Linked DNA regions of Homo sapiens: regions 2 and 3 are each linked to region 1. Evidence: fine-mapped expression QTL. A gene starts in region 1. Each other region holds a variant in brackets. All regions are shown on one strand. Distances are between the middles of the regions. Region 1 holds the start of DOCK4 (dedicator of cytokinesis 4). Region 2 overlaps DOCK4 (dedicator of cytokinesis 4). Region 3 overlaps DOCK4 (dedicator of cytokinesis 4).

Evidence for each region. PIP is the estimated chance that this variant, and not a neighbour inherited with it, causes the effect.
Region 2: its variant is the best candidate, but not a certain one, in a credible set for the expression of DOCK4 in testis (GTEx, PIP 0.83).
Region 3: its variant is the best candidate, but not a certain one, in a credible set for the expression of DOCK4 in cerebellar hemisphere (GTEx, PIP 0.90).

The regions. Positions count from the first base shown.
Region 1 is chr7:112,203,199-112,209,639 of GRCh38, reverse strand. It overlaps DOCK4 (dedicator of cytokinesis 4), which reads left to right and starts at 3,241. Exons shown (of 53, transcript NM_001363540.2): 1 at 3,241-3,538. The coding sequence starts at 3,502. It overlaps ZNF277 (zinc finger protein 277), which reads right to left and starts at 2,945. Exons shown (of 12, transcript NM_021994.3): 1 at 2,833-2,945. The coding sequence starts at 2,923. RefSeq lists an enhancer at 2,730-2,849 and a silencer at 3,020-3,369.
Region 2 is chr7:111,992,743-111,999,183 of GRCh38, reverse strand. It overlaps DOCK4 (dedicator of cytokinesis 4), which reads left to right. Exons shown (of 53, transcript NM_001363540.2): 4 at 681-736; 5 at 4,953-5,049. Among named protein-coding and RNA genes, the nearest start is that of DOCK4-AS1, 190 kb to the right of the region's middle. The variant C/T (reference allele first, on the strand shown) is at 3,995.
Region 3 is chr7:112,141,645-112,148,085 of GRCh38, reverse strand. The region is part of intron 1 of DOCK4 (dedicator of cytokinesis 4); the gene reads left to right. Among named protein-coding and RNA genes, the nearest start is that of DOCK4, 62 kb to the left of the region's middle. The variant G/A (reference allele first, on the strand shown) is at 3,546.

The sequences.
Region 1 (6,441 bases):
ACTTTATCTTATAAAAATGACATAAAAAATCAACCATTAATTTCTCCTGTTGACTGCTACAAGTCAATGAGAATACTGGGTATTTCTCACCGAGGGTGAGAAATTTTTTTATGTTATAGATACCGCAAATTCACTACTACTCAACACTTTTATTGAAAACAAACTGGAATCAAAAACTAAGCTTTCTATCAGTTACTTAATTCAATCTACTAGTCATTGAAACATTGGTCCTGGATTATTTCCTCAAAGTTTGTGACAATATGGGGGAAAGAACACTCATATACTACAGGTGGCAATGTATGCTGAATATATTTTAAGAGGAAAGTCTGGCATCTGTCAAAATTTTAAACTTGCATAACCTTTGATCCAGCAATTTTCTCCCAAAATATACAACCAGTGGGCAAGAATATATGTACATAAAGTTGTTCATTGCAACATTACTGAAAAACTAAAGTCACACTATATGTTCATTTATAAGGGAATGGATAAAGAATGGCACAATCATATTTTGGAATATGATGGGCACAGTCCTTAAAAAAAAAGGAAACAAATGTACTGACGTGGAAGGGTTTCTATGATAGACTGCTGAAAGAAAAAAGAAGGTTGCAGATCTTTCAGTTTATATAGATTTATCCCTTTTTATTATAAAAATCAAATCATAGGCCGGGCGCGGTGGCTTACGCCTGTAATCCCAGCACTTTGGGAGGCCGAGACGGGCGGATCACGAGGTCAGCAGATCGAGACCTCCTGGCTAACACGGTGAAACCCCGTCTCTACTAAAAATACAAAAAACTAGCCGGGCTTGTTGGCTGGCGCCTGTAGTCCCAGTTACTCGGGAGGCTGAGGCAGGAGAATGGCGTGAACCTGGGAGGCGGAGCTTGCAGTGAGCCGAGATCGCGCCACTGCACTCCAGCCTGGTTGACAAAGCGAGACTCCGTCTCAAAAAAAAAAAAAAAAAAAAAAAATCAAATCATACAGACGTGTGTCATATAAGAATATGGTGGTTTAACAGAATACGGATTGTAGGATTAAAAAAAAAAAAAGAAGAAGAAGAATATGTTGGAAAGAATATGTACCAAACTCTTATCACTTAATACTCGGGGAGTGGTGCTGTGAGGTGAGGGAATTTTCATTTTTTTTACTTCATACACTTCTGAATGGTTTGAAGTGCTTTTAAAAACTTTTAAACTTGTAAAATTTAAAAATAAATATTTTTAAATATTTTACATTTTTGAAAGGCATATCCTTTTTTTTTGTTTTGTTTTTGATACAGAGTCTTGCTCTGCCTCCCAGGCTGGAGTGCAGTGGTGGATCATGGCTCACCACAACCTCCGCCTCCCGGGCTCAAGGGATTCTCCTGCCTCGGCCTCCCGAGTAGCTGGGACTACAGGCATCCGCCACCACGCCCGGCTAATTTTTGTATTTTTAGTAGAGACGGGGTTTCACCATATTGGCCAGGCTGGTCTCGAACTCCTGACCTTGTGATCCACTCGCCTCGGCCTCCCAAAGTGCTGGTATTACAGGGGTGAGCCACCGTGCCCGGCCATTTTTTAAAATAAGTTAGACTGTGAGATAAATTCACCAGTTTAGATCTTAAACTGGTAGCCCTCTGGAACTTTGAAAATCTAGGAAACCGTAATAGTCTGTTACCATCAGATAGCCCAATATATAACCAACCCAAAAATAAACCATTAGGGTGTTAAATTCAATATTTAACTCAGGAGACTACCAAAGATTTGTTTGGTAGAGGTACTAAAATAATTTCAGAGTAGGGAGTTCCACTGTTGGGAAGTGGGAAAAAACTGCACTTCAACTCTGTGCCGCTGAGGTAAATACTTAAGATGATATCAATTTAACTGTGAAAGCAAAAACAAATAAATCGAAAAACAAAGTCGCAACAGTCTGAGAACTATATTTAAGCCCCAAACCATGTTCATCAGAAAAAGACAACTTGTGCTAAATTACACATCAAGACAAAAATGGGGTGGGGGGAATGGGGGAGGGATAGACTAAAGGTAAAAGAGTCCTAAACACAATCCACCTGCAGCTTTCAAAATTTGGTTTTTTATTCCTACAGTGGATCAGAGGACAACCTGAAAGTCAGGTACAGCCAAAGTTGTGATGGTTTTCAAAACTCTTTTCAAATGTTCTTTGAAGCCACGAGTGCAAATTATCTATCACTTTCCTTTTCTTTCTCTAAGGACCCAGAGACTGGGAAGATCTCTCAGGCTCCACATACAAATCTGAAGAACACCCAGAGCAGTTAACCATCTACAGGGAGGTTGTGAGATACACACACTTTCCCTTCAGAGGTCACCTCAGCCACAAACTGGGCAAATCTGTAGAGTGGAGAGCAGTGACCACCAGTCTGCGACTGGAAATACTCCGGAAGCTAAATAAAACACACCTGCGAGGTCAAACCAAGCAAACCAAGGCAGTGTACTGGTGAGGAGAAAGAGCTGCTAATCCCAAAATTATAAACACACGCGCGCGAACCAGATCTGAACCAAACCCACTCAGCAGCTAGCTCAAAGCTGGGAGCTCCAAACCAGAAGACAAACGCTCAGGGAGCTTCCCCGGCGGAGGGGAAGGCCATTCCATGGCATTTTCTCCGCCATCCCATGGCATTTTCTCCGCCATCCCCGGGCAGCCCCAACCAAGTAGCCGCCACCGGCTCCAACCCATCCCGCTGGGCCACCACCCGTGGGGCCCAGTCGAACCCAGGTGGCCCCAGAGCTGAAGGGCTCCTAGGGTCAGACCAGAGGTCCGTTGCACACCCGGTCATAGAGAAAGGAAGACACATCAGCCGCGCCTCCGGGGCACCGTACTCACCCCCATAACCTACACCCCCGACTGTGCTGCAGCTCCCATCACGGTCTTCCTGCATTCGGGCGACAGCCCCCTGGGTCTTGGAAGCAGCCATTACCCGGCAGAAAAGAAAAGGGAGGGCCGCAGGGCGGGTCGGAGGCGGGGTGGCACCAGTAGAAACGCTACTGGAGGCGAACTCCCCGTCGACGTAATGTTTTCTCCACACCTACGCCGCGCTCTGGACCAATAGGACGCAATCAGTAAAACTGAATCCCCGCCCCGAACCACATTTGCCGCGCCCACTTCCGGGATGGGGAGGCCAAGAACTACAATTCCCAGCGTGCTGCGGGGCCCTGGGACGGGAGGGCTGGACTAGGCGCTGGCGGGCGGGGGTGCGCCGGAGAGTGCCCCGGCGTGTTCGCTTAGTTCAGTGAATCAGAACAATGACTGCGCCGCCGGGTACCCGGGAGCGCGTCGGAGGACTGTGAGCAGCCGCCGCCGGGAGAGCTGCGGGCGGCGCAGTGTCAACGCTGGGCTCGGGAGCCTCCAGCGCAGATCCTGCCCAGCGCCCGCAGCCCGCGCGAAGCCGCTGGGCTCCGGCACTGCAGCGCTGCTCGGGGACTGTGCATTGTTGTGAGCCGGAGAAGGGGCGCGGGGATTACAAAGCCTGAAGACCCCGGAGCCCCTTTAGCCATGTGGATACCTACGGAGCACGAGAAATACGGCGTGGGTGAGTCTCCGCGGGGCGAACTTTTATTCTGCTCTGGCCCGAGCGAGTGCGCATTTCTCGTCCTTGCCCCCGCGCCCCTCTCGCTCCGCCCGGTTGAAAATGCCTAATCCTGGCATCGCGCAGCTGGTACGGGGCTTTGCCGAGCCAGCTCCAGGCAGAGGGCTGCGCACCAGGCTCTCGCCCCGCACCGCCTGCTCGGCGCGCCCCGCACTGGTTCCCGAAGCGCCGGGACAGCTTGGGGGAGCGCGCGGCCGGCCCGCTAGCTTCGGGCTCTGCCTGCGGAGTTTGGAGTGGCGACTGGGCGTGTGTGTGTGTGTGTGTGTGTGTGTCAAGTTGGAAGAGGAGGCGAATGGGGTTTCTCTCCTTCCTTACCCTTCTTCCCCAAAGCGACAGGGAGCTGCAACGGTTCCTCTGGGTGGAGAGGGAGACAACAACACTCGGGCAGAGAGAACACCCCCAAAACAGTAGGGAGGCGCAAACCCTTCCCTCTGGCTCGGATCGACATTCCCGGAGTGTGGAATGTGGCAGGGTCCTGGAGAGAGCCGCTCTGACAAGCTGAGCCCTCTCTGACCCTCCTCCCTCTCTGCGATCCCGGATTTATGGGGTGTGTATGTTGCGGGGCGGGGGCATTGGTAAATTTCAACATCTGCGCCGCTCGGTTCTTTGGTCTTTGGAGAAGAACGGGTATTTCAGCAGTGTTTTTACTTCTGGCCACCCTCTCGACCCCGGGTGAGCGCAGTGGGGGCGGTGTGGCGGTACAGGGCTGCTGAGTGATAAATGGGGAGGGGGATCGGAAAGCCTGGTTCTTGGGGGCAGGGAGATAGCTTTTAGGAAAGCATACCCTGACACTGGCGTTCGGAGAAAAAGGAACAGGATAGCTCTCGCTGTTCTGTGTAAAGGTGAACAACAAAGGACATTAATGTTGACTGATGAATACAGGAGTCTCCCTTCCTTTTCCTCCTCCCATTTCAGGCGGGTTACAGTTCCCGTTTTTGTTGTTTGATTTCAGCTGGGTCGCCCCTTGACAGTTACTCCTTTTAGGGTTGAGACTATTAAGAAGCCAGGCTCTCCGACAAGGCTGCAGCCGGCCAAATGCAATTATAACCTCCCAGAAGGTCTAACAGAAAGCATTATGGATTTTACTAACACTCTTTATTTCCTATAATGCCCTGTTCTGCCGACTGGTGTACTTTGTGTGTGTGTGTGTGTGTGTGTGTGTTTTAAAATTGAGGACAGGTCTAGTGATTTAGGTGATGTGTAGATATCTGCTTATGTTCTAAATTCATTTTCCTGCAATTTAAAACATCTGGAAAGCCTTCCCAGGGAGTCGTAGTCCGAGGGGATTTTTGTTTTTTTTTTTCCCAACTTTGCCTGGGGATAGGACTTTGGGGTCCATTGAAAGGACTGTAGGATTCAACAAAATCATTCCCACATTTCACGTTAGCTTCCATTCTGGATTGTGACTAATTACCAAGACAATAGTTTGACCTGAACCCACCTTTGGGAAAGGTTTCCAGCTTTCCCTCCTTCAAAGTGTCAGAGGAGTCTTTGCCAGCCTCTTTACTGGCAAGGAGTAGATGTTAGTAGTTGTTATTTTCGTTCTCCTCACTCTTCTCTTTTTTGGGAGGTAGATTAACCCTTGCTAGGGAAAAAGATAGTCCCTTTGCTGGACTGGTGAGGGACCCGAGGGCATCGCCTCCTAAGCGGCTTTAACACTCAGTGCAGGAAGCTCAGATCCATCCAGGCAAAACTGTCCTGCTTGGAGTCGATCCCAGATGTTGCTTTCTTCCAAGTGTTAAATTATACAGATTATGGATGGGATTTATTTTCTTGATTTCTTCATGTGCCAGGTCACAGCTGGGGTGCTGGTATCGATTAGTTCCTCTCTTGCCTTTCTTTACAAGCGGTGGGCAGAGGCTTAAAAACCACTCTGGGATTTCCTGGAATGGCAAACCGGATATTATCAGTCAAATGTTTTGGGCTGCAGCAGACACCTCGGTTTTGGGTGGTTGTGATTTGATTGCAGAGTAGGGGAGGCAGAAGGGTGTGCTCACAATTGAGAAAAAGAGGTTGAATGAGATGAAGGACGAGAGCAGAGAGAGGGTCTTTTGCCCCAAATTACTGCTGTTGTTCTCAATATCACATGTGCCAGAATGTTAATTAACCTTTATTATTAATTTTTGAGCATTTGGATTGTGGAATGCTTAGCTGTTTTTTAGAATCCATCTGTTAGGCGTGTGTGTGTGTGTGTGTGTGTGTGTGTGTGTGTGTGTGTAGTGAAATTTTTGCTAGGATACTTATGTGTGGACTTTATTTTTCACCATGGAGGGCACTGTTTATAGCTGCTTATATTGCAAGTTGTTTGTTTTTTCTTTTAACCTTGGTTAATGTTTGTGTTTTTCTCATGTAGTTCTTACAGATGTTAAAGAAAAGATCTTATGGGCACAGATCTTTGTTACCAAGTGTAGTGGTAATTTAGTTTCTTCATTCTTTGAAATAAATCAGTCTTTGTAACAGAATATGTGACGTTTTAGTATAAATTATATATTTCTGCAAAGGTACTTTTTATATACCCTCATTTATGTATGAGATAATTATGCTTTTATATACTTATGATTAAATTTTAAGCAGCATACTGTAAACATGGGTAAAATTAGTTAAATTTTATATCTGTAATTAAATGTATCGGAGATGGAAATTCTTTTTCGTAACTGATGTATAGGCACCGTCCCATTTAATGAATGATTAAATTCATTAAAACAACGAAAAGTCAGTCATAAGTGTTCTGATTTTAGGAAAAGGTATAGTGATGAAGTTATAGTTCTGAGGAACAGGGAACCTTGTCTTTTAGAAATCATGTTAAGAGGCACAGTGATAGGCAATTTCACCTTAGGAGATTCTAG
Region 2 (6,441 bases), 210 kb after region 1:
ATGAACAATCAAATTGATGCTCATTTTTTTGTTGTTGTTTCTTTCAATTTCCCATTTAGAACAAAGAAACAATTTCCTTGCCTTGTCATTTCCTACAATAAAAAGCTTCAAGCTAACATGGCTTCTTTTGTTTGATTTCTGTTCCATCAGAATGGCAGCATGGTGATTAACTGTTGCTGAGTTGTCATCAAAAATCTTCCATAACACAGAATACACATATTATCTCTAAATTTGCAGTGATATTTTTTGTATGTATATTTTCAAGAGAAATATGAATGTTTTGGGGAGAAAAAAAGGAACTACCATCAAAACGAAGAACCTTTCAAAACTATGCAATACATATTTTGTAAACTCTTATTCAGTATAACATGGTTTTTATATAGAATTCCTGAAATTTTCTTATTTTCTGTTTAATAAACATTATGTTTTCTGAGTAAGATTTAATTTTTTTGATCATATTTGTTTAGAATGTCTCTAAATTTTTAAAGTAGTTAATGGTAGAAAATGAAAGGATGGATCTTAAGCCACAGTAGATTTCATCCAAGAGAATGTGGTAGAGATGTTGCTTTTCCCTATTCCTGATGTTGTCATGGTTGTATGGCTGTGTTTTATACAAATGACTTGTGAAACCAACCCTGCCTTAACAGCCGGCATCGTAACCTTCATGTTTTCTTTTCCAGGGTATATTTCCTTCCAGCTACGTTCACTTGAAAAATGCCTGTGTAAAGAACAAAGGGTAAGAAATGAGTTTTATTAGTAGTTGGAGGATTTTCACAGAGCCTTTGCTTCTTTTGGAATTTGAAAGGCATAGTAATTGTCTTGAAAAATGAACTGTAGAAGATCATACCATTGTCTGTGTTCTTTGTTAAAGATATATTGCATTAAGACCGTTGGTGGAGAAAATTAAAGAACCCCATCTGTGTGTGCTGGACAAGAGGATCTGAGAGACTGGAGGTCTCTCAGTGTCCACAAATCAGGGAATCAGCCTATGCTTGAGCAGAAGGAGTTGGTTCTTTTTGGTTTCTTGCTACTTAGGGAAGCATGTCAGTCAGACCCATTAAATGCTGTCATATTATCTCAAACCCCAGGAATTTCCTAGGTTCACCACTGATTCTAAGATGCATAGTGTGTCTTTCTCTAAATGGGCATAATAACATATTCTTGTGTGACCACTTCACAAAGCCATTATTCTATTTTAGAGAATGTCATTTATATGATACTTTGTTTGATTGAGCTCATTGATCACCTAGTATTTCTAATACATTAAAAAAATTTCTAGTCTTATTTCCAAAAGGATTTGAAGTGGCAGTCACTTTAACATAATTCCAATAAGGTACAGCAGGATAAAACAGAAGAACTTGCCTGTGTAAATAGTTAGCATAAGCAGATCATTCATCATAAGGGGCCATGGATTTAGACACAAACATTTGGTGTCAGTGTCACAAGGACTATTCACATGATCATTGCATAATTTTCATCTTAGGACAACAGAATACAGATTCAGCCATAGAAATTATATTTTTTCTCAAATAGTGATAAATAGCAATTTATTATTTGAATTCTTAAAGCATAGTAATGGCATTTTCCAACTTGAGTCTTAAGATAAAAGTTCCAACGAGGCTATTCAAATAATTTCCTCCTCAATAAAGATATGATATTAAATTTCAGTTCAGGGAAACAGCCTATGCATGTGGCTAAGAGTCTATGGTATAAATACTTTGAGAGTTCCCTATATGGGTAAAACTTAAAGAATCTCAGAGACCATTACTCTACATGTCTTATATATGTGAGCTGCTTTAAGCATGTTAGTAGTAGCACTCAGTAATAGTAATTATTGAATAATAGATTAAAAGCATAATTCTAATTCTAATAATTACCACTACTACTACTGATCTTTTAAGAAATGTGTGTCCTTTGGAAGTGTGCAGCTATAATCCACCAGAAGCATCAAGCCAAGTTGTTGGTCCTTTTGAAACTTTCCTACCCAGCTAGATGTGATACCATTCAGCCTCCCTCCAGTAAACCAGAGGATACTTCAGAATACACTCCAGCCATATGCTTACTCTTTGTTCTGATCCTTCTGTGCTAGTGATCTGGGCTTGGCAATGTGAAAACACCATGGGCTACCCCTGTTTCTTAAAGTGTCCTTTTGAGCAAGCCTGTGCAACCAGTCCTCTTTGCTGCCTTTGTCCCAAGCCCAACCCTGACCTCCCTCAACTCTGCAGTGCAAAGGGCATCATATGCTCTGACCAAGGAAGAGAAAAGAGAGAATGCTGTGCTAGCAAAGATGATGTCAAGCATCTCTCCACTTAATCAAAGTCTATCCCTCAAAGTGAGTTGGGGTAGGATATGGTTTTTAAATAAGTACGTCCTTTTTTTAAATCCTGGTTAGTAACTGGTGTATATCTGATCCCCTTCCATGAGCCCCAGGAAGTTTAAATGTGGGTAAAGTACCTAAAAATTTGGTCATGTAAGTTTAAGACTTTCTTATGGGGTCTCCACCTGACACTAGGTATGATGGACATTGTGCAGCAGAAGAACAGAAAAGCCCAACATTAGTTTCTGTAAAAGACTTATTGGAATTGACTCAGACCCTAGGTCTAGGGCTGTTACTGGAAGAAAAACTTTGGCCTGAAAACATTTGAGAGCATGTATTGCCAGGTAATTGCTTTCCCAGAGAGGAACATCTTTGGGGTTTTGGTATTACCTGTCTTATTTTAAGTGGATTTATGGCCCACTAGGATGAAATAATGGAAAAGTCCATCCTAGAATAATTGAACAAAATATAATTTCAGAGGTAACTACTTACGACAGACTATTTGAACACTGATTTTGGGTTTGGAATAATTAATAGAAAACAGTCACCTTGCCTAAAATGGCAATTTTATGCTTAAAAATTTAAATTTTGCTTGGACAACCCCCAATCAACTTCTCACAGACTGAATTGCGTGTATGTTCTTTCTTGTGTCTTCAGATCAATGTAGGACTGTTGGAGGTCAATTAAATTATAGTTTATGGACAGGGAGGCCACTTCTGTATTGTTTAATTCCTACTGAGGTCATGTCACTTTTTAAATGTTAAGTAGTATGTCAGGTTTCCCTGGAAATTCAGTGTTTCCTCCTTGACCTTGTATAGGATCATTTTATAATCTCCATCTCCAAATATTCATCATTTAAATTGCAAACGCTGCTTCAAAAGCAAAATAAATGTACCACCATTTAAAAATGTCATATACAGACTTAATAAAAGGTTCTGTGTCTGTCACAGTTTATATATTACTGTTTACTTTTATTTCTAGTTTAAAATCCCAGTTTTACATTTTCAGCTGTGTTTAAGCTCTAGAAAGAAGGAAAATATTCATAGGGCAAGTATTTTAGCAGCACTGCGAAATGAGGAGATGAAACTCTGTTGGGAAAAAAATCAAGGCAAGATTTTAGTTTCCATATGTCTGACAAGAAGATTTTACAAAAGACAATTATATACACTTTGGACATAACATGAAAAAGGAATCACAGAACAGTTATTAGTCTCATGCTAAGAAGTAATTTCCCCTTGATCATTAGACAACATGGTTCTGTGTCTAATATGTCATTACTTTCTATGTATTAGACGTTTTCTTGAGAAAAATATACTGAAATAAAGAAAATAGTCTCAATCAATATATCAGTAGCATTCTTTGGGAAGCAGTGGTAGTAATAGCCACTAAACCACTTTCACCTGCACATACACACACACACACACACACACACACACACACACACACACACACAAAGAAAGAATTTGAAAAAAGAAACTGGAGATGAAGATTATTATATGCCAAAGGTAGGATACAGAGGACAAATTAAATCTTCTCAGCCAGGCGCGGTGGCTCACACTGGTAATCCCAGCACTTTGGGAGGCTGAGGCAGGCAGATCACAAGGTCAGGATATTGAGACCATCCTGGCTAACACGGTAAAACCCTGTCTCTACTAAAAATACAAAAAATTAGCCGGG[C/T]GTGGTTGCAGGCACCTGTAGTCCCAGCTACTCGGGAGGCCAAGGCAGGAGAATGGCATGAACCTGGGAGGTGGAGCTTGCAGTGAGCCGAGATCGCGCCACTGCACTCCAGCCTGGGCGACAGAGCAAGACTCTGTTCTCAAAAAAAAAAAACACAAAACTTCTCTTTTATTTCCCCCATCTCCTCATGCATATTCTCAACTTCAGGACCACCATACACACCCTACTAGATATTGATATAAATATTTTCCAAGGATAGTTTCTGACTTTTAGAGAAGAAATGAGAAGACTACGTTACTCTAATCAGAAAGAGGAACATTTTGGAACGAATATTCAAATATCGGTGATGTCATAAGCCATAAGTTCTATGCTGTATGATAACATTACTTAGAATACTAATCATTTCTCATGGTCCTAGTTTGCAAATAATAAAAATTAAGTGTTACCGAGATCAAGAGAGTGTTCAATTAGTATCTCAGTGTCTAGTTACTTATAACACTGAGTTAGTTTGGATGCCCACAGCCATCATGTCCTGGTGATTGAATGGTGTTCCTTTTACTCTCTTTGAGTCCTATAGTCATAGCCCTTGGAAGGCAAAAGTCACCTCAGAGTTTATGTAGCCCAGTGACCTCATGTTACAGATGAAGGCTTTTGGCCTTAGGTTAAATGAGTTGCTGCCTAGTCGTGAACTGGTACTGGAGTGCAACCCTTCTGATGCTGTTCCTTCTTCACCACGCTGCTCAAACTTGATCTGGTTGAAGTGGCTGGTTGTTCTGGTATTGTCCTACCACAACCCATGTAGCATTCCTCACATTAACTTATAACCAGATCCTGGTTACTGTCTGTAGAACGAACAATAGCTAGGCAGCTTTCTTTTCTAGTTATCTTTTAGAGTATTTAAAACAAAATTGTTGTCTATGGTATTTACATATATACTTTTTCTTTTTTAATTTCACAGACAATTTGAAATGGTTATTCCCACTGAAGACTCTGTTATCACAGAAATGACATCAACATTAAGAGACTGGGGAACCATGTGGAAACAACTCTATGTGGTTAAGTAGCTTTTTAATGACACGATTTTTCGGGTAAAGAATTGTTTTAAGAAATACATGAACATGAGTAAGCATTAACTAATATAGCACCTTCTGCAAGTCTCCAGGACTCCTTGGGGATATAGATATTAACAAGACAGTCTTGTTACAATCTCTGTGTCCACTGAGCATGGGTTTTGTAAGTTATTTTTCAATACCACAGGAATATAAAAGATTATTTTTCTGGCATCTAACCAAATAGGATGGTTTACATGGACCTATTGTTGAACCTCCTGAATATTTTTAATTTCCAGGGAAAAATAAAATTCAAGACAATTTTGGTGGCTTTGGTATTTTATCAAATTCAAATTCTGTAAGTAATTCAAGTATACTGTAAATGACAGACTTCTTAGCTAGTATCAATGAGAATATTCTAAATATACTAGAGAAAAGAATGTTTCTTGAGGGGAAAAAGGATCTGTGTTTTGCAGATACGTAGTATATATTTATTTACTTACTATAAGTAATCACATTGGGAACTTATGTGGCAAATCCCATGGTAAGTACTCTTTGATGCAGTATCTTCTTTAATCCTTATTACTACTCAAAGAAATAATAATGATGATCACATCCAGCTTACAGATGAGAAAAATAAGGCACAGAGAGTGAAGTACTCACCCCACATCAAGTAATGGGAAAATGGCTGAGCTGGGGTTCTGGTATGAATATGGTGCTGTCACTCTGAACCCCACTGTAACTGTGGAAGTCTGGGGGTGGTGAAATATTAGGGAAGACCCCATGCTATTTCTTCTTTTATTTTTAAAGAAATTTGTAGAACAGCTTAATCATTTGAAGGGATTAATTCAAAATACAAACGTGTGCTTATCCTGACAAAACGATTTAAAACAGCCTGTCGAGGAAAAAATCCAAATTAGTGAGGGACACTGGCAGAATGATAGTGTTTATTGTCTGTTACATCTGAAATGCAATAGGATATTTCACTGAGGCAAGAAAATCTGACAAAGTCACTAGTGAAAACCCTTTGATGTTGGACTTCTCTGATTAAACCCTCCTGTAGCTGGTAGCTTTAGAACTCACTATGAAAATCCACAAGAAACCTTAGGTGAATTGGCGGAGCATAGGTTTTGTAAATAACAAAGTCAAGATAACCGACCTCGAGGGCTCTGTGCTAGGGAAGTGCAAAGAAATGCAGATCTCCTTTTTAAATTTTCTTTTTTTTTTGTAAATGTTGGAAAGAATTCAAAATCCAAGTATTATTTCACTTAAAGTAACATTGGGCATGGCACTAACATGGAAAAAGAAACTATTTGAAATGCTCAAACCACTGCATTCCAAATACCCGATATAAGAGTTATAAAAATAATGACAGTGTGAGTGTTGTCCATTAGCTGA
Region 3 (6,441 bases), 62 kb after region 1:
ATTCAGCGACAATTTACTAGAAAGCTGGATGCTGTGAAAGCAAGACACAGAAAGCAGAGAACATCAAGCAGTGGGAGTGTGGAGGAGAGGGAGAGAGCATGTGTGCTTGAGCAGAGGGGTGATAGGAGGCCTGAGGGGAGAGCTGGTGGAGGCTGTGAAATGAGATGGGGAAGTAGGGAGTTGGGTGGAATAATGAGGAGATGGAGAAGTAATTAAATTCAAGCTTTCAAGCCTCCTCCTGGTGGTGGCTTCTCTTTATCAAAAAAAAAAAAAAAAAAAAAAAAAAAAAATCTACGTTTGCTCCTGGGAATTGTTCCTGTGTAGTTAAGGATGGATTCTTCACTCGTGTCTTCAATTACTTGAATTCAGTACGGAGGTTTTGTGACTCAGAGCTTACCTCTCAGATAACCGCCTTATTTTTGTGATGGTTGTGGCCAGGTCTTCTGATGCAGGATTTCTAGATTTTATACTGAACACAGGAAAGTGGGCAAACTTTTCAATTATAGGAAATACCTTTGAGGGTATTTTGAGGTATTGGGCAAAGGCTGAAAACAATTTCAAAATAAAATATTTTTAGGCAAAATATCTGTTAACTGTAAGAATGTTGACTCTGTTAAGCCCAAAGGGAAATGTTACAGGTCAGGTGGATCCAGGACAGAGCTAAAGGTGGTAGACATGCACTGATATAAATGTCTGTGCTTAAAATGTGGTTCTAAGAGACTAAAAAATTGTCTATTCTGGTACTAGTAGAACCTAGGTTTGGATCTCCTTGAAAACGCCCAAAACATATTTTACTTGCCATTTAGAAAAGATAGTTTTAGTGACTAATTAGACTTACGTGGGTTGTAGTCTCTAAAAACCCAATAATTTACTGTTCACCTGTGTATATTTCTAATGACAATGCTGAATTCAGATTGAAGGTAATCTAAATTAGGTACAATACAATATCTATAAACATTATTATATAAGAACTGTATTACCATCAAATAATTTTAATATCTGGATTAATATAACAAAGTGTTCCCTAGTATATATTACTAGGAGTCCTGCTTTAAAAAATAAATACATGATAGTTATATATCATTTGTAGGTAGATGTATTTATAAGGTGCTTTGGGGCTTTTAAGAAAGTGTCTTCTCTTAAATATTTAAAACATTTTTATTTGCATTACTGGTTTCCCTAGCATATCCTTTCTTTAGAGAAAATATAATCAAATTTTGGATACTGTTACACTCGTCTAAATTATTACAAATTCTTAATTTCAAACTTAATGAAGAAATTAGATGGGATGAAGAGATATCGAAGCCTCCTAGATCTCTGTAAAATGTTCTTCCTCTGCCAAAGTACTTTTTTGAGACAAGGTCTTACACTGTTGCCCAGGCAAAAGTGCAGTGGTGCCATCAGGGCTCACTGCATCCTTAACCTCCCCAGACTCAGGTGATCCTCCTGCCTCAGCCTCCTGAGTAGCTGGGACTATAGGTGCACGCCACCACACCCAGCTAATTTTTATAGTTTTTGTAGAGATGAGGTTTCGCCACATTGCCTAGGCTGGTCTCAAACTCCTGACCTCAAAGGATCTGCCTGCCTCAGCCTCCCAAAATGCTGGGATTACAGGCATGAGCCACTGCACCTGGCTTCAAAGTTCTTTCAGTTATACTGGCAACAAAGCAGCTTTTGGGGCTTTGAAATTCCTCTATTTTATTTAACACTTCTGAAATCACAGTGACCAGGAAGGAGGGGATCAAGTTTTGCCAACTTGTTAAAGAAAGCCTTGGAAAGCCTCTTCTAGGATGACCATGCTGTGGGGACTTCTGTAGCTTTTGCTTGGAGACTTTGAAACTCCTCCCATGCCAACCTTAGAAAAAGGCTGATTCGATGAAGTCTTTCTGGCAAAGCATTTAAGACCCAGCCACTTTTCAAAGGTGAGTTCCTCTGTAAAGTCACCTCAGGTTCTTGCTACAAAAACCAATCTTTGTGCTAAGTGTTTGATGAATACTGCCATGTTGTGATTTTAGATGTTGGATCCTTGGCTTCGTTATGTGGACTTCTGGCTTTGGGAGGTATTTTATCCTGTTAGAATATTATCTCTTCCAGTGTATTTCTCTCATTTTCTATATCACAAACAAACATATAAGCACATTCTAATATAGTACGCAGTTTAAGCGAAGTTAGATGATATTGAATAATAGATTGTTATAAATATATTTTTACATACTTGCTCTCACACCCTCCTTGACCCACCCAGTGCCCCATTTTTTTTTTTCTTCCAAGTAACTAAGTTCTGTGACTTGGATGCTGTGACTTGGACTTTAGAGGTGAAGTCAGATGACAAAAGATTTCCATGCAAATCATGTTTCCAGAATCATCCCTCATGTGCATGTATGTCTAGTGGAATGCAAGGCTTACTAGAGGGAGGTTGAAATTTGGTGTGCGTTAAAGGAAATATAAAAATCCTGCTTAATGATCCTGTTAGGTTTGTATACAGATTAACTGTTATTACACAAGAAATGGTATGTCCGTTTGGAATTTCTCATCCTCTGAATAGCCAGCTTTAGCACTGTAAACTGGGAAGAATTCTGTTGTATCTCTGAATATATAATATTGCATTACTGCGAGCCCCGCGGCCCTTTTCCCAAACAACATATGCCTGCATGTGCCTCAGTTTTATGTGAGCCAAACCAATCTTAGGCCTAGCATATGGGAGTTTATTAGTATGTGTATGTTCCTATGTTGTTTAAGAGAGATTTTAGGGTCTGGAGAACTGAGACGTGGCAAGTTACAACAAAGCTTTGCTTAGGGATGTGGTTCATGGATCTCAGCCTAAGTCTGAACACTTATGCCTATAAAATATCCTCATTCCAGTTCTTGAGGCAAATTGTCTTTGATTCACATTTGCTTTTTCTTTCTGTGGTGCTTGCCTGATGCTTGCTAACCTCTCTAGCACCTGCTGCCTTTATACCTCCCTAAGGTGTCCGGTCCCTGCCTTGGAACCACCTGCAACTTTCCTCCTTTTTACAACATATTAATAGATATCGTTTCATCATATAGGGAGTGCTCTTACAGAAGCACCGGAAAATTTCTGCATTTATAGCTTAAGTGTAGTACTTTAAAAAATTCTAACAAGCAAGAGTGTTTCATAACCCAGTGGAACAAAAATTCCTAATGATGAAATCCAGGCATATTCTGGGATGAGATTCCTCTTATCACACCTCTCTGCTCGCTTTGCGTCAGTAGTCCTGGTAGGACTGATGTTCCCAAGCATCCCAAGGAGAGTGTGCATACCACAGTGTGCTTTAGAGATGTGGTATTTTGGTGTGCAGAGTGTAGTTACAGGATACCTCTGATAGAAAGATGTTTGCAAAAACTACTAGGATATTTTCTCAGCTGTGCCAGAAATCTGGGTAAATGAGTGTTAGATTATTAGCTTTGGCATTGAGGTGCTGACCTGCAAAGCTCTGTTGCCACTGCCCTGGGTCCTTGATGACCTGGCATCCTGGAGATACCCTGGTCCTCCTAGATCTGACCTAGGTTGCAGCTGTGAGCTG[G/A]ATGCCTAGTGCCATCTGCCTGGGCAAATGTAGGAAATGCCAAGTGGGCTGGCAATTTTTTGTGTGGCCTTTGGATCCTCACTCAGCCATATGGTGCTAAAATGTCAAACTGTTCCCGAGTATGGGCCATGATGGAGAAGGCTAGATAGAGAACACACACTTCAGATAAAGAAGCTGCTGAGTCTGTTTATTCCCCAGCCACTGGCTTATCACTTTGCTACTTTAACCAACATTTACTGAATAGTGCTTAGTTCATAGTGGACTACTTATATTGTGAGAGGTGCCAAAAAAAGAAAATAAAATACTGAGATGGTTCTTACTGGCAAGGATTATGTCTCTTGTGTCCATGTGTCTTGTATGTAATACTGTCACTAGAGGAAGGTGAAATGAAGGGATTCTTCCAGTAGAATTTAATGGGAGGAAAGTATCTTAGAAACTGAAGAATGCCAAGGAAACTGAGTCCCCCAAAAGATTGTAGCATCCCTAAATTGTGATTGCAGAGATATTACCAAGCCCCATACTCTTTCCACTTCAGCTTCTTTCTGCTATATTCTGGCAGTCACACTTGTTGATGGATTGACATAATGCCTTGAAAAGTTTACAATCCGTGTAGGAAGAGAAAATGTAACAAGAACTTACAGATGATCCGAATCAAAACATCTGCAAGTGCTGTGATTGAGACCAAAGGGAATGTGTAAGTCTAAAGGGAAAGAGGAGGAGATGAATGATGTGGTTCAGATGAGGTTAGCCCTGGCAGGCTTCCTAGAGGAGATGGCTGGGGTTGGGTTTGGCCCATGTAGCTCTTCTTAGTCCCACTCTCAGGAGACTTTATATAAACACATTTTTCTCCTGGCACAGGGCATCTGACTGGTTGGAAAGAACAGGAAGACAAAGAATAGATGCTTGAATTCCAAGAGGCCCTCCCATTCCTTATAGTTGGAGAGCCGCGAACTTTTAGATGTGCCCCCAAATGCATAGAATTAAACAAATATATCAGATACAATTTAAACCTAGGTAAAAGACAAGTCATTTCATGTATTTGATAGAGAGTTGTAGCTTGAGAGACTTTTTCACTAATGGAGCTTTGTTGCCTTTTCAATTTAAATGACGTCTGCTTGTCTTGGTTTATAAATATTCAAAGAATTGCTTTGGTTTTAGTTAATCATACTTGACCGTATATAAGCTCAGCTATTTGAGGCATTTTAAACAACCAGTTTCATATGGCAGTTTTGTGGCATTTCTGGGATGGAGGGCCCTGGAGCTAGCCTTTTCCTGTTTCCACTGCTGTGGAGGTCTCGTCTGTGTCTAGGATTCAGCCCAAGGCATTGTGATCCTATGGTGAATTGCTTGGAGTGGCCCAGAGGAGATGTTCTTTTCCTTTTTTTTTTAACCTTTTGGTTTTGAACTAATTTTAGAATTACAGAAAAGTTGCAAAAATCATAGAAAGAGTCCCTTACCTAACTCACCCACTTCCCCCAGTGTAAGCATTTTACATAATTATAATAAAATTATTTTAGTCACCCCCACTTATCCACCCTTAGAGAAAGCCTCACACTTATTCATAAAAAGACACATGTACAAAGTTCTTTGTTTCCAGGTACAACCTAATGTCTAGTAAAAACAAATAGATAAATATCCTGTGCTATGCAATAGTAAAAATAAATGTCAAATGCATTAAAGGAAACAAGCAAGTTGCAGAAGGGTATATGCCTTATGTTTCCACCTACTTCAGGTTTAAAAGCATGCAAAGCAATACTAGATACTATGTATGCATGTGAAGTAGCAGTGTAAAAACTTGCACATGTATGTGAATGATATACACAAAATTCAGGATCCTGTTTAGTTCTGTAGTGGTAAAGAATACATGTGAGCTTTCTATTGTAACATTTAATTTTAAAAAATGAGTGGTAGGCACTCTGGGGATCATTATATTATTTTCTAAACCTATTCAAGGACTAAAATGTTTAATTTAAAAAATAGTAAATAATACTAATACAAAAGCCCAGCAAGGCCATTCATTAGAAATGCATTAGTGATGAGCTTTCCTGAGACAGTGTTGTACCTGCTGAGTTGAAAGGCAAAGGAGTAAGGCTTCAGTTGAATTCTTGGCTCTTCTGCATGGGTTAGACAGTCAACATGTCTTGAGTTTCCTGGGTCACATTTTCTCTACCTGTAAAATTTCCATGACTGCCTTACAAGCCTAACATACAATAGTGAAAATTCAGAGCTAAAACTCTTCAATAATGATCCTAGAAAAGGTGTGCAATGTTGTCTGTGGCCCTATACTCTGCCAGGTTTGACATCCCACCAGCCCCACTTTCTAGCTATGTGACCTTGCCTGAGTTATTTTTTCTCTCTATGCCACAGTTTCTTCATCTGCAAAAGGGGCTTAATAATAGTACCTACCTCACAGGGACATTGTGAGGACCACATGAGTTAATGCATGTAGAACACATAGAACCTGTTTCTCCCTCTCCCATCTGGCTCCTAGACTCAGTGTATTTGCTCTTCATAGAGTTAAATTACTAGGTGCCTTAAATTTGAATTAGTTGCAAGTAGTTAAGAATTGCAATGAGTGGGGGGATGTTACATTTTAAAACTGTGGATTTCTGGCCTCTCTTGAACAAATGGAGCATTTAGTAGCACTGGCCCCAATTGCAATCTGGCAACTCTGCTGTCCCCTGTAAGTGGAAGTGTCCCCAGTTCAGTGTAGTTTCCAAAACACTCTCATGTCCTCTGGACCCTGAGGCAGGCTGTTCATTGTCATTTATTGTCCAACAGACATTTGCACCAGTGACATTACCTGCCAGGCCCCCATTAACATTTGAGTTTGCAACCCTAATTTAAAGAGGTCGTAGTGTTGCAAAGAGGGGATTGGATTATACATCAATCCATG